Linked DNA regions of Homo sapiens. The protein of the gene in region 1 interacts with the protein of each later gene in a pairwise test. Each region holds a gene or a part of one and is shown in the gene's direction. Other genes may lie near its edges.

What was found.
Region 2: the proteins of ZNF19 (region 1) and BCCIP interact in binary tests that used the Homo sapiens proteins (3 or more experiments, as listed by UniProt).

What each region holds. Positions count from the first base shown.
Region 1 is NC_000016.10:71,486,321-71,494,259, reverse strand, and holds the start of ZNF19 (zinc finger protein 19), read left to right. Parts: upstream 1-4,935; 5' UTR 4,936-4,988; intron 4,989-7,939. UniProt on the Homo sapiens protein: May be involved in transcriptional regulation.
Region 2 is NC_000010.11:125,818,591-125,826,560, forward strand, and holds the start of BCCIP (BRCA2 and CDKN1A-interacting protein), read left to right. Parts: upstream 1-4,955; 5' UTR 4,956-4,967; coding exon 4,968-5,132; intron 5,133-7,970. UniProt on the Homo sapiens protein: During interphase, required for microtubule organizing and anchoring activities. During mitosis, required for the organization and stabilization of the spindle pole.

The sequences.
Region 1 (7,939 bases):
CACTAGGTGGTACTGTTGTGGTCCTTATTTTATTAATATAATTTTTATTAAAACTCTGCTGGTTTGGGCCGGGAGCGGTGGCTCACGCCTGTAATCCCAGCACTTTGGGAGGCTGAGGCAGGCGGATCACAAGGTCAGGAGATCGAGACCATCCTGGCTAACACAGTGAAACCCCATCTCTACTAAAAATACAAAAAATTAGCCGGGCGTGCTGGCGGGTGCCTGTAGTCCCAGCTACTCGGGAGGCTGAGGCAGGAGGATGGCATGAACCTGGGAGGCGGAGCTTGCAGTGAGCCGAGATTGCGCCACTGCACTCCGTCATGGGCGACACAGCGAGACTCTGTCTCAAAAAACAAAACAAAACCCTGCTGGTTTGACACAGTTGAACTCCCATTCCATAAAACCCTACTTCTGTATCTTCCAAGATTCCACATCCTCTCTTAATTTGAACCTATGTCATGAGAGGTTTCCTCCTAAAATGTCATTGCTTTCTAGGGTTCCTTCCTTAACCCACTGCTTTCATCAGTGGTGCTCAAACATTAATGTGTGTCATAATCATCCAGGGGACATGTGAAAAATACAGAAACTTAGGCCCCTATTCTATTTAAATGAACCATCTGGGCCTTTGAACTTGTAACCGAAGGCAGGTCTGGCCGCTTGCTGCTTGCAGAATCCAATAACAAGAGCGAGCTATGATAGAAAGAAAGTGACATTATTCTTTACCAAAACTTGCAGTGGGGAAGTGGCTGGATTCACATCCAAGGTAACCACTTCAAATTTTAGGCTGAGGAGAAGGGCTTAAAAAAGGGAACTTGGAATGGGAGGCATGTGAGAGGGGTACTGAGTACAAGGTCTACGTGTCTTGTTCCAGTGGCTATCTTGAGCTGTGGTCCACTTAGAGTGTGGGCTGGCATCATCTCAACAATGGCCAGGTTATTTTCTAACTGCCTTGAATTTCTGGAATTTTGCAGCTGGGTCCCTATGCTTGGTCTGTTTCAAGATTAGCCCCTGGAATTTCTAAGTAATCACATAATTAGATACCAGCATATAGTTAGATAAAAATGTGCATGGTGTAAGGAAGTGTATGGTAAGAAAGGGAGGGACGTGGTGTTTCAAAGAAAGTAAATTTCAAGGCTGTACTTTAAGACTAAGGAGAAGAAAACAATGATATATGCAGTAAGCTTCAAGGTTATATCTTGAGACTAGGGAAAAAACAGAAAAAAGAAAAAAGGTTTTAAAATGCATTTTCAGGCTAGGCTGTTTGGTTACAAATTCTCTGTTGGCTCATTGTGATCCCATCTGGTCTTACATCTTTATCCACCCATATCACTACCTCTGCCCTGCACTTTCCCCTGGGCTTCAGATGACATGTCCAACTAGATGTATTTCCATGCAGACACCAAAAACTCATTATTGCTTGTCCGCCTCTCCCCCTGAAACCTCACCACCTACTCAGTTACCCCAGGCAAAACCCAGTATAATTTTAGCCTTCCTCCTCTGATTCACCAAATAATTAGAGTTACAATTCTCATAATGGTTCACATTTATTGAGTGTGATGTAGAACAAGTGTACTCTCATATGCTGCTACTAAACAGGAAATTGGTACAAGCACACTGAAAAACTGCATTTTACACGGAGACTTCAGAGACATATTGTTAAATGCAGCGTAAGGACCTTGTTTAGGTCATGATTAGAATAAACCACCTGTAAAAAGACATTTTTGAGACAATCAGGGAAAATGGATTATGGCTGGGTATTAAAGGATATTAAGAATTGTTATTAGCTGGGCATGGTGGCTCATGCCTGTAATCCCAGCACTTTGGGAGGCTGAGGCAGAGGATCTCTTGAGCCCAGGAGTTCAAGACCAGCCTGGGCAACATAGCAAGGCCCCATCTCTAAAACATTAAAAAAGAAAAAATTATTAATAGTAATAAAGTTGTGTTATCTTTTTGCTTATACCACCTGGTCTGGTGGCAGTTATTGACTGAGGCGAAATGTATGATATCCAATGACTCAGCAAATTCACTCTTAAGTATGTTTAAGAAAGATAAGAGCTTATGTTCACCAGACGTGTGAAAATGTTTATTGCAGTTATTCATAAATAATCTTCAAGGTTATTCATAAGAGCCAAAAAGTAAAAAAAAAACTAAATGTCCATCACAGTAGATTTTTTTGGGTAAAAAAATGTGGTTTATTTAACAATGAACCATTAAACAATGATAAAAATGAATGAACTATAGTTATATCCAATAGATGAATCTCAAAGATATTATGTTAGATTAAAGAAATGAGCTGCATGGTTCTATTACAATATGATTCCATTTATATAAAGTTTAAAAACAGGTAAAGCTAAGGTGATGGAGGTCAGAATAGTGATTATTTTGGGGAGGCTATCAACTAGGAAGGGGTATAACAGAGAGGTTTTTGGGGTGCTGGGGACATTCTATATCTTGATCAGGTTGAAGTTACATATATAAATATTCATCAAGTTTTACACTTAAGATTTGTACTCTTTACTGAACTTAAATTATACCTTATCTGGGCACAGTGGCACATGCCTATATACCCAGCTATTTGAGAGGCTGATTGGGGAGAATCACTTGAGCTCAGAAGTGCAAATCCAGCCTGGGCAACATGGAGAGACCCCTACTCTAAAGAAAAAAAAAACTAAATAAAAATGAAACAATCAATTAATTAGAAATGTAGCGAATGTTTACAATAAGTTAGATATGAAAATAAATGATTTTCACATGTTGTTTAATCCTCTCAACAGCCTACAAAGTAGGTATTAATATTGTACCCATTTTATAGGTGAGAAAATTGAAGGCACAGAGAATCTAGGTAACTTGCCCCAAATCACAGTTAATAAATGGAGGCTTGGAAACATTAGTTTGGCTTAACATATTTCAACTTCTTCACTATGAGACACAGAACTACGTATCTGAGGCAGTGATAGAGTGCTTATGTGTGTATACTGAGGCCAAACTATCATGGTTTGAATTCTGGCTCTGCCACATAAGAGCTGTGCATGACTTTGAGCACGTTATTTAATCTTTCTGTGTTCAGTTTCCTCATCTGTAAAATGGGACTCGTGTCATCTTATATGGTTCTTTGGCCCTTATTTCAGAATTTGATGATTTTTCCTCTTACAGTTACTGTTGCTCTTCTCTCTCTCTCTTCCTGAAGGGACTGAGGTCAGAAAGCTTGTGTCCACGGTGTGAGAGCATAGAAAGGCGTATTGGGACTTGGAATACCACTTAGTATATTGTTCTGGAAAGCCAGTTTGACATGGTGGAAATAATCTAGGGTTTAAATCTTAACTCTGATACCTATTATATGCTGTGGCCTTACTGAAACTCTTTGAGTCTTGGTTTTCTCTTACTCATGATTCATTCTGCGTTGAGTGCTTGTATTATCTGTCCCACTCTCCCTTATAGTAAGGGAGTATAATCATATATGTCCAACTCTTTATTCATCAAAAAATGATTATTGATCATGAACTGTGTTATAAACACTATTCTAGAAACTCAGGATACAGTCATGGACAAGATAGAAAAGCCTCTTTCTTGAGGAGTTTACACTCTGCAGAAAGCCTGAGGGTTGCTCTTGAAGACCTGGATCATGGTCCCATTTGTCTGGACTTGTGTTGCTGAAGTCCCAACTGAACAGCAAGTCCAACTAGTCATCCTGGAAGTCCTCAGCTCATGATGAGCTAGCTATTTTAGCACTCTGATCTTCTAAGAACCAACCCTGAACTGCCACCAGGCTTTGCTTATACTATCTAGTCTGGTAGTAAAAAGTGTACAGATGCCCAAACCCACTGAGGTTTATAACCATTTTCAAAGGTTTTAATAAAAAGATTGAATACTGGATTAACTCCAGAGCCTATTCAGGCTCAATTCCTAAGCTATTAATAATCGCTAATATCTAGTGAGTGTAATAATTACTAATATCTAGTGAGTGTTTAGTATGTGCTAGACATTGTACTGATTTACATGTACTAACATCTAATCCTCACAACAATCCGGGGAATAAATACTATTATTATCCTAGTTTTAGAAATAAATGTGACACTTACAGGTTAAGTAATGCACCAAAGGTCACAGAGTGGTCCTTTGGCCTTTGAAACAAAGCATCCTGATGCCAGGCTGTGCTCCTTACCACTATGTCATACTGTTGTAAAGGAGATGGGACTAAGAAGCTCTAAGTCCCCAGTTTGTTTTGTAATTCTGTGACAGTGATCACAAACGTTTTGACAGTCCAGCAAAATCCTGGCCAGAGTTCTCTTTTGTGGACCCAGAAAGCCACAGGCACTAACACTTTAGAGCTATCTCTCTTAGCCCATATGCCCTGCGCTTTTGGCATTTTCTTTATCATTTAGAGGGGAAGGAGGGCAAGGGTCTGAGGAGCCTTGAATGGTGACTTGGACTCCAGGGGTAGTGGCAAACCATTGGAGGTTACAGTGCATGGAATTAAAGACAGCTTGAATGGTATAATCTGACTGGCTCATTTTACAGAAGACAAAAGCTGCTCAGAGACACAAGGGTCTTCCTCAATGGCCCGTGAGTGGCAGAGCTTGTGAAAGGAAGTTGATTCACTGCGAGTGAACCAGAACTCAGAAAGACCAGTAAGCAACCAGGAAACACCGGCCACCATCTAGGCCTGTGGTGATGGCGGTTTTATCACGAATTCCTTCCTGACAATCAACTGCTCCCGGGCAGAAGCGATCGCTTTCTTGACCCACCCAAATGGACAATGACCCAGGCGTGAGGTTCCTGAGGAGAGAAAAAAGTGTGTACAAGGAAAGGAAGAGGATGTCTCCCAATCGGAAACACCGAGATGCGGAAAAGTTGCACCGTAGAAAGAGCAGCCGTGCTCATGACGCACTTCTGGCCTCCAAGCGCCCCACAAGCGTGACGCACTTCCGGCCTCCTAACCGTTCTCGCTAGCGGTGCGCTTCTGGCCTGTTTTGAGTCCGCGCTCAAAGGTGCCAAAGTGCAAGGACCCACAGTTGGGCGGAGCTTGGGTTGGGAGTGAGACAGCATAGCAGTCCAGGCTGGTCCTTTGAGCGCAGCTCAAAGAAGGGGACGGGGAGGGCGTCACTATACAATTGTGGCCGGGTGGGACCTGGGCTGTTTGCTCTTGGAGGCTGTACAGCTGCAAGCTTTGCCGCTCACGAACTGGAGCTGGAGAAAGAGCCCCCCAAGGATGGGAGGATGACAGAAGTGTCTGCAGATGGCACTGCCTGGGCACCAGGAGAGGCAAGGACTCCAGCTGATTCCTACCTCCTAGGGAAGCCATCCCCACTCTTAGTTGGGGCCGGCTTAAGTCTTTAACCAAGGCTCTTGCAGTTGCAGTGTCTGTTTCTTTTGAAGAGGCAGATTTGGAGACCTGTGTCCAAACAAATGCCATTGTCCCATAGTGTTTTTATGTTTTTGTTAGTTTGTTTTGGTTTTTTTGAGACGAAGTCTCGCTCTTGTCACCCAGGCTGGAGTGCAATGGCACCATCTCTACTCACTGCAACCTCCGCCTCCCGAGTTCAAGTGATTCTCCTGCCTCAGCCTCCCGAGTAGCTGGGATTACAGGTGCCTGCCACCACACCCGGCTAATTTTTGTATTTTTAGTAGAGACGGGGTTTCACCATGTTGGTCAGACGGGTCTCAAACTCCTGACCTCAGGCGATCCGCCTGTCTCGGCCTCCCAAAGTGCTGGGATTACAGGCGTGAGCCACTGTGACCAGTCTGAACTCACTTTTAATTTTAGGAGCTTGTTTTGTAGATTCTTTGGGACTTCTTATACAGATAATCATGTTGCCTGCAGATAGTAACAGTTTTGTTCTGAGTTTCGAATCTGTGTGTCTTTCATTTCATTTCTTTTTCTTTTTCTTTTTTTTTTTTTTTTGAGATAGTCTCGTTCTGTCACCCAGGCTGGAGTGCAGTGGCATATTCTCAGCTTACTGCATCCTCCACCTCCCGGGTTCAAGCAATTCTCATGTCTCAGCCTCCTGAGTAGCTGGGATTACAGGCACACACCACCACACCTGGCTCATTTTTATATTTTTAGTAGAGATGCGATTTCTCCATGTTGGCCAGGCTGGTCTTGAACTCCTGGCCTCAAGCAATCCATCCACCTTGGCCTCCCAAAGTGCTGGGATTACAGGTGTGAGCCACTGTGTCTGACCTATGTGCCTTTTATTTCTTTTTCTGGCCTTGCTCTTGCTAAGACTCCCAATATGATGTTAAATAGTAGTGGTAAGAGCAGACATACCTGCCATGTTCCCAATCTTGGAGGGAAAGACATTCTGTCTTTCATCATTAAGTATGTTTGCAGCTGCAAGGAGAGAATAATATTGAATTATATGTCAGTATAGATACTGCAGCACAATATTTAGCTTAACTACATATTTTTTTGCAGCCAAGGCAAAAATGACTTTGTGCATGAAACTTAAGTTCCACCACAGCCTCAGCCTATTTGTGGCTGGGATTTTCAGACATATGGGAGAGAAGTTAGTATTTTCAAGTCAGGATTAAGTAACAGTAAATATGCCATGATCATACACCATACTCTGGGTATCATGATCTGATATTACTTATAGCTTCAGTTAAAGATACTGTAGGAGTTAGAGGGAGAGCTGGATAGTTAGGCTGTGAGGTGACCAGAAAGAAAGGTGGTTCCCATTGGAATCTAAGGAATGGTCAAAGCTTGAAAGTAATTATGTTTGATGGTAGAGATTGTGACAGACATGAGTATGAGTATTGTATTAGTCCGTTGTCACAGTGCTATACAGATATACCTGAGACTGGGTAATTTATGGAGAAAAGAGGTTTAATTGGCTAACAGTTCCACAGGCTGTACAGGAGGCATGGCTGGGGAGGCCTCAGGATACTTACAATCATGGTGGAAAGCAAAGGGGAAGCAGGCACAATCTTCACATGGCCAGCAGGAGAGAGACAGCAAAGGAGGAAGCGCAACACACTTCGAAACAACCAGATCACATGAGAACTCACTATCACGAGAACAGCAAGGGGGAAATCCGCCCCCATGATCCAATCACCTTCCACCATGTTCCTCCCCCAACACTGAAGATCATAATTCAACATGAGATTTGCCTGGGGACACAGAGCCAAAACATATCAAGTATACATTTCCTTAGAGGTGATACATTGGCTGGGAAGACAGGTCAGTGTGAATTAGCTATTATTATTAATGATCTTGAAAACTCTCTGGGAGACTTTCCAGACAAATGAGAGTGGAAATTTTCTTCCTTTCCACTCCCTGCAAAACAAAAATAAGTTATTCCCAACTCTTTTTGTTTTTAATTTTAGTGTTCCCATCTTCTGGCCAAGAATATACTCAACTCTTCACCAAGTAAACATACGGGTTCCCATGTTTCTAAAAACCGATAAAATTAACAATAGAGACTTGTTTTTGTTTTATATCCAGACTTAATGGTCATTTATGTAATGTAAATATCCAGAATAGGCAAATCTATAAAGAAAGTGGTTGTCTAGAATTGGGGGAAGAAGAGAGGTATGTACATGTGTGTCTATTAATTTTCTATTGCTGCTGTAACAAATTGCCATGAGTAGTGGCGTAAAACAACACTAATTTATCTTAGAGTTTTGGAGGTCAGAAATCCAAAATGGGTCCCACTGGTATAAATTCAGGATTTAGACTAAGGAGAGAATCTGTTTCCTTGCCTTTTTCATCTTCTGGAGGCCACCCACTTTCCTTGACCCTTGGCCCCTTCCTCCATCTTCAAAGCCAGTGAGGTTGGGCCAAGTCCTTCTTGTGCTGTCATTTTTGTGATTCTCTTTCAATTCCCTCTTTCACGTTCAAGAACTCTTATGATTACACTGGGCCCACCTGAATAATCCAAGATAATCATCTTTTTTTTTTTGACAGGGTCTCGCTTTGTTGCCCAGGCTGGAGTGCAGT
Region 2 (7,970 bases), on another chromosome or scaffold:
GAAATCAATTGAGAAGCGTGCACAGATAGGTTAACATGTCGCCACCTTGGGCTTTAGGAAGAGGCTTGGTGGAGTAGAGGGTGTTTGCACAGGAGGGCCAGTGTCTGGGTTCTGGTCTAGGCTGCTCTTGCCTCAGTCTCAGTTTCAGATTCCTGTACATTGGAAAGGGGCTGTGAGCCTCTCCATTGTTGGCTTTTTTGATGGACTTTCTTTCCTGTAGTAGATGCTCATTATTTGCTCACCTTGTGGGAAAACAACAATTTCAATTTTACCCAGCATCTTTGAAACAGAAAGAATGATTAATTTTCCTTAAAGTAAAATGGAGCACTTGTCCTTCAAGTTGCCTGCTTAGGTCTCTCCCAAGCATACTCTACTTTCTTTCCTGTTCTAAAGTTTTTTGTTGTTGTTTTTTGAGATGCAGTCCTGCTCTGTCGCCCAGGCTGGAGTGCAGTGGTGCAATCTCAACTCACTGCAACCTCCGCCTCCCGGGTTCAAGCGATTCTCCTGCCTCAGCCTCCTGAGTAGCTGGGACTACAGGCATGCGCCACCATGCCCAGCTAATTTTTGTATTTTAGTAGAGATGGGGTTTCAGCATGTTGGCCAGGATGGTCTCCATCTCTTAACCTCGTGATCCGGCTGCCTTGGCTTCCCAAAGTGTTGAGATTACAGGTGTGAGCCACTGCACCCGGCCTAAAGTTTTTTAAAATAAACTTCCACTCCTGCTCTGAAGCTTGCCTCGGTCACTTTTTCTGCCTTATGCCCCCAGTTGAATTTTCTTCTGAGGAGACAAGATTGAGGTTGCTGCAGGTGTCTACTGATTTGCCACTGGTAACATATTTGGTGCCACGTGACTCAGATGGTAAGGGATCTCTATGCCTCGCTTTCTTCTGCTGGAGGCATCTGATCCCTGTGCAGTTTTTCTTCTCCTCCCTCTCTCCTGCTTACTAAACAACCCCCAGAACAATTCCTCTTGGCCATACGTGACTCTGCTCTCTGCCAGTTGATTTCTTAGCTCACTCTGGTGGGTGGCTCATGGGAGTGGGAAGGACCCTAGGGTCTGCATCAAGCAGATCAGAGGCACTATATGGCCCTCCTTGATAGGAGGCTTGAGACTGGTGAGGCTAGGGCCTAAAAACCGTGCAGTGTCTGGGGTTTCCTCTGCCTTTTTTTCCAATGAAAATAACGAAACCTGTTATTTCCCATTGAGGGGGAAAAAGGCGGGAGAAGCCCCAGCAGAAATGAAGCTGCTCCTGAAGCTTCCAACATGAAACTCACCTCGGCACTGGTAAAAAGAGGGCTCAACCTGTCTCTAGATTTACAGTCTAATGCTTGCTCTGCCATTTTACCCTCATACTTATGTTCATCAATCATTGATGAAAAAGAAAAGAAAAAAAAAATGACTGGAATAAGGGCACCTTACTGGTAAGAAAGAACCAAACCTCAAACCCGTACCTTCTATGTCATGGTGTTCTGGGTATCAGCAATAACAACAGTCACCCTTTTACTGAGCATTTACTCATGTTAATTACTGGGTGTATTAGAGTTCTTCAGAGAAACAGAACCAATGGCATATATTTACATCTAGAAAGGGATTTGTTATAAGGTATTAGCTCATGCAGTTATGGAGGCTGAGAAGTCCCATGATCTGCTGTCTGCAAGCTGGAGACTTGTTAGCAGGAAGGCTGGTGTTGTAGCCTGAAGGCCTGAGAGCCAAGGGTGTAGGTTCCAGCCTGAGTGTGAAGGCCTCAGCACCAGGAGCACCAAGGGCAGAAGATATCCCAGATCAAGCATGCAGGAGGAGACAGGACACATTCTTCCTTCTTTGGCTTTTTGTTCTATTTAGGCCCTCAACAGACTGGATGCTGCCCACCTACTTTGGGGAGGGCAATCCACTTTACTCAGTCTATCCATTCAAATGCTCATCTTTTCTGAAAACAACTTCACAGACACACCAAGAAATAATGTTTAACCAGATATCTGGGCATCCGTGATCCAGTCAAGATGACATGTAAAAGTAACTATCACACTGGGCTAAGCATTTTACATGCAAGACTGCAATCCTCACTTAAACCTGCAAGGTAGGTGGTGTTAGCCTTATTTGCAGGAGGTGAAACCAAGTCCCTGGGAGGTTTGAGTAACTTGTCCCAGGTCACACAGCACAGTAAGTGGGAGAGATGGAATTTGGATCCTGGTCTGAAGCCCATGCTCAGTCTCCTAACCACTTGCTACCATCCCTCTGCCTCATTAAGATAAATTCTGAGCTAAAGATGAACACTGAACGAGTGGTAAGCAATCTACTACCTGCTGAGTTCAGTTCCCTAGGGTCAGTACTGTATTTACTTTCACATTCACTATTCTAATTCACACTTTGACCATGAGCTCAACACTGGGAACTAATCTGAGGGCATAAAGTAAGGCTTTTTCCCCTACTTGTCTTACAAAAGTGATCCTGTTTACTGTGAAAGATTTGCAAACTACAAAAAAGTATAGTTCCTCAAAAAAATAAACATAGAATTACCATATGATCTAGCAATTCCCCTGCTACATATATACCCCAAAGAATTGAAAGCAGGGACTCGAACAGATATTTGATACTCATGTTCATAGCAACATTATTTACAACAGCTAAAATGTAGAAGTAACCAAAATGTTTACCGACAGATAAGTAGATAAACAAAATGTGGTCTATACATGCAATGGAGTATTATTCAGCCTTAACAAGGAAGGAAATCCTAATGCATGCTACAGCATGGGATAAACTTTGAAGACATCATGCTGAATGAAATAGTCACAAAAGGAAGAATATTGTGTTACTCCACTTACATGAGGTTTCTAGAATAGTCAAATTAATAAAGATGGAAAGTAGAAAGGTCATGGAGGGAAAATAAGGGAGTTGTTTAACTACAGTTTCAATTTTGCTAGATGAAAAGAGTTCTGCCAATGGATAGTGGTGGTGATGGTTGCACAATGTGAATGCACTTCATGCCACTGAACTGTATCTTTAAAAATAGTTAAGATGGTAAAATGTATGTTATGTATCTTTTACCACCATAAAAAAAGTATAAAGAAACAGGAAAAAAAATTGGCTATGGTATCTCAGTGCAACTCTGTTGATATGTTCACATGGTCTTTCTGAGTCTTTTTTCTAATCTTAGCCTTTTGATGGGTCTTTTTTGACAGCTTCCTCTCTTCTCCATTACAGGAACATGTTTTTGCAGTTGTGCGACCCAAAGAGGCCATTTCAAGCTGCCCCATCAGATGTGGAGCGCTGATGTGTAAGTATTACTTTAATATCCATGACATGGCTGGGTAGACAAGAGACTCCCAGGAAAGACCGAAATCACAGAACACGATTATGGGCAATCTGGGCTCCTGGGGACCTTTAGGGCACGCCATCTCGTACTGATGAAGGATCACTGATTTATCAGATGTTACCCTGCTTAAACAGAAGCAGCCTATTAGCGCAGCTCACACCATTCCTAGAATCAAACATATCCAACCCACCCCCCTCATTTTACAGAGAAAAATCAATTGAGAACCGCAGATCTTATTCCTAGAAAGCTGATGAACCCTGTTTCTCTCGCAATGGGAAGACCTGGCTGCCCCAGGCTGCATCCCCACCTGCCACAGGGGCTGGCGCTCGCTCTGCAGTTGGCCGCAGTCCCCTCCACTCTTCTCTCCAAATAGGCTCGGGTCTTTAACCTAGACTACCCCACTGGCCCCGAAGCATTTTTTTTTTTTTTTAGATAGGGTCTACCTCTGTCGCCCAGGCTGGAGTGTGGAGTGCGGTGGCGCGATCTCGGCTCACTGCAACCTCCGTCTCCTGGGGGCATGCGATTCTCCTGCCTTAGCCTCCTGAGTAGCTGGGACTACAGGCGCGCACCACCACACCTGGCTAGTTTTTGTATTTTTAGTAGAGATGGGATTTCGCCATGTTGGGCAGGCTGGTCTCGAACTCCTGACCTCAAGTGATCCACCCATCTCGGCCTCCCAAAGTGCTGGGATTACAGGTGTCCGCCACCACGCCCGGCTAATTTTTGTACTTTTAGCAGAGATGAGGTTTTGCCATGTTGGCCAGGCTGGTCTCGAACTCCTGACCTCTGGTGATCCACCCGCTTTGACCTCCCTAAGTGCTGGGATTACAGGCGCGAGACACCGGGCCCGGCCCCCCGCCGAAGCATTTTTAACTGCGGTGCCGGCTTTAAAAAAACTTTTAGGTCAAGAAATGCGCTCCAGAAGCTCGGCGAGGGTAGGCTGGGCAGGCGCCTTCCGTCACCGGCGCAGCGGTAGCGGCAGCGGACATCCCCGCCTGGGCAGGCCCAGGTCCGCGGAAGCCTCGGGGCCCTGGCCCCACTGTGTCACACACCGCCCGGGGCCGGGCCCCTGCACGCCCGCGGGCTTCGGCGTCCGTACCGGTACAGCGGGCGGCGACACCTACCTCGCGGGACCGTGCCCAGCACCCGGCCTGGCACACAGCGGGCACCCGGTCGGGGGGCGGTGTCGCGCAGTCCCAGCGAAAAGGCTGCAGGAGCAATGACAACAGGGGCGGAAGCCCCCTCCCCACGCAGCCCGAGGGGCCGCGGCGGCCACCCGCGCCGGGCCCCAGGACCCCGCACCTCAGACTGGGGTCGCGTGGGTGGCTGCGCGCAGCTAGGCGCTCGCGCATGCGCACCGCCATCCAGGCCACGGAATGAGGCCAGAGGTTAGATGGGTTGAACCACTACGGGAAGGGGAGGGGAAGCTTTGGGAGGAGTGATGGAGGGTGGAAAGCGGAAGAAAAAAGCAAGATGGGACCGCAAGCTGGACGTGACTGTAAGGGGTCATGGCTGCGGAATCCAGCAGGGGCATTGGGGTTGACGTGCACTCAGCGCCGAGCTTCTTCGTAGTTCCTCACCCCCTTGGCTACTATGGGCTGGTCCGGAAGGTCAGGCAAGGGGAAGCTGCGCAGGCGCAGTGTGAGCGGCAACATGGCGTCCAGGTCTAAGCGGCGTGCCGTGGAAAGTGGGGTTCCGCAGCCGCCGGATCCCCCAGTCCAGCGCGACGAGGAAGAGGAAAAAGAAGTCGAAAATGAGGATGAAGACGATGATGACAGTGACAAGGAAAAGGATGAAGAGGACGAGGTCATTGACGAGGTGAGAAGGACACGCTCCCCTAGTTGGTTTATACCTGAGAAAAACTTTTTGGCAAGCCCAGGCTGTGTAAAAATAGTGTAGGGTCTTCCCTGACCCTGAGGGTCTGTGAGGAGAAACTGGAGATAAGTTCTTTCTCAGGTTTCTCCTCGGTCTTTAACACACTGCAGCCATAGTAGTTATTTTTTAAAGGTCTAGTCCGGTCCAGTTAATCTCCCAACCCGCGTCCTCCCCGAAAAAGCCCGCCACAACAGGTGTGTTCTTCTCGTCCTCTTTAGTTCTCAGGCTGAAGCCTCAGATCCTGAATCGGCCACCCCGGGCTCGCAGAGGGGGCCCTCTCCCCTCGGGGCAGCAGCTGTCCTCCTCTTCACTCTGCGGGCGGCACTCACTTGGGCCCTCAGTTTCTTGAAGGCTCTTGCCGCGTTCTACCGTAGAAGCCTTTTCAAATGCTCTTCTTTATCCTGCAGTTTTCCCTTCCTTCTTCAGATCTCAGCTAGGCTGTATTTTCTGGCTCCTGGGGCAGCTGACCAAGTCGTGGGTAAATCTTTGGTTTCATAGTCTCATAGAACTGTGTTCCTTTCTTCAGACTAGGTCCTACCGTAGTGCCTGGCAATATAGGTACTTATTATTTGTTTAGTAAACAATTAGGACTGAATGATCCTTCAGCCTACTGAATGTTTAAATAGATACCTCAGCCTTAACTTGTCCAAAGCAGAATTTGTATAATAATTCATGCCCCTCTCTTAATCGTCACCATTTCTATAAATGGCCCCTAAAGTCACCAGCTGCTCTAACCCAAAACCTGGGGCTTAACTTTAATTCCTCCCTTTCCTCATCCTATATCCAGCCCATCAGTAAATCCTGTTATCCAGACATTTCTCAGCACTAATTCTGAGACCATCGTAGTCCACACCTCTATCATCTCTTGCCTGGACTACTATTTAATGTAACAGCTTTTAACCGGCGTTCTTTTCTCCATTTTTGTTCCCCTACAATCAGTCTATACTCCACTTACAGTCAGAGAGATCTTATAGGTCTGATCTCAGGCCTCTGCTTAGATTGCTGCATTGGCTTTCTAGTTCATTTACAAGAAAATCAAGAGTCTTCACAATTGAGGGACGGAAAGGCAGCCTAGATGGCTGGATCAGAATAAGGAAGAGAGAGTGATAGGAAATAAAATCAGAGAGGTAATCATGAGTCATGATGAGCATGGAGGGGAGCATGGAGAGAAGCATGGATGCAGGATTAGAGGTGACACCATGGTGTGGGTATGTGATCAATCTTCCTTCCCTTACAAATTTTACTTTGGCTCTATGCCTTGAATGCCATCTCACCATTTTTCACTTAGAACTTTGACTGGCTCTTTTATTACTTTTGGGTTATAGAAATCAATGCTGCTTGTGTTAACATGGGAAATCTATCACACCACCACAGTCTTAATTCTAAATCACCTGGGAATGAGGGACAGGGCTCTTTTCTACAAACGTGACTGTTCCTGCTGAAGCCATGTGGAGATGAGCCCATACCCAGGAAAAGGGTGCTGGACAGATAATCCATTTGCCGCCCATTTCCCTGGTGGTGCCATAATAGTCTGGGACAGAGGTCCGAGATGTCTGTCTAGACAAAGAAAAAAACACTAGATGAGCATTATTTACAGAATGTATTTATATCTAAGGAATAAGTTTAAGTCCTGAATAATGACAGTTTGTTATTTGGTTTAGTTTGATCCTGTTTGGAACACTCCCACCCGACCCCTTGTGTTTTGCTGCTCACATAATCTGGCTAAGTTAGCATTTGAAGTCTGCAAAGCTGGACTTAAAGAGTTCAAATTGGAGCTGGAATTGCTCTAAGCAATTCCAGGGCCTTGCAATTTTACAATTAAGGAAGACTTAAATATATACATAGTCAGGGTGGCAAGGTAAAAGGAGGTCTGATTTCCTCTGCGATGTTCTTCAGCTAAGACCTAAATTCTGAAACCGTTAAAACCTGAAGTGCCTTTAAATATATTATTTCATCAGAGCCCCAGGTTCATTGTGTCACTTATCAAGGTCTGATTTAGGGTCCTCAAGGACTAATCTTGTTAGTGTTTAAAAGCAACTAGGTTTTGTTTTTGGCATTTTAGTTCCATCTTCTAGATTCTGTTGTCTTGCAGATAGAGATCAGGGAGCCCAGCTACACATTCATTCTTCTAGTCCCTTGTACTCATTGTATTTCCTTCTGCCTTAGGGCCTTAGTTTGTGCTGTTCCCTGTACCAGGAACTCTCTTTGCTGTTTCTCGGTTTCTTGCTCAAATGTCACTTCAAGGAAGGCTTTCCTGACTGACTTCTTATTTTTTAAGTTGTTACAACATTGTGTACCTTTGTTTTATAGCACTTACATTTATTTCTATGAATATTTCCTTAATGCCTATATTCCTTCCTAAATCGTAAGCTGCACGAGAGCAGGATCATTTGTGTCTGCCTTACTAACCTTTTCATCTTGAGTGCCTGGCACAGTGCTTGGTACCTGGATTGATACTTAATAAATATTTGCTAAGCAAATGTAGTGTAACCTCAAATCCATGGGCTAAGTCAAGCTCTAGGCAATTCCAGGGACTTTTGAAGTGATTTTGATTTTTGCCCACCCTTGTAATCAGGAAAATAATTTATCCTTTGTGGCTGCCGTGTCTGGTTTATTTGAACTGGACTTTCTCAACATTTAAACTAGGTTACTCTGAGTGTTTTGTTTTCTCAGGCTTTTGTGTCACCTGAAGAAATAGTGTGAAGGTGCTTTGTATTCTTCACAGATGGCAATCTTGGCAATGTTTGCCTGTTTTAAAGTCTAGATGTTTGTAGTTTTTCT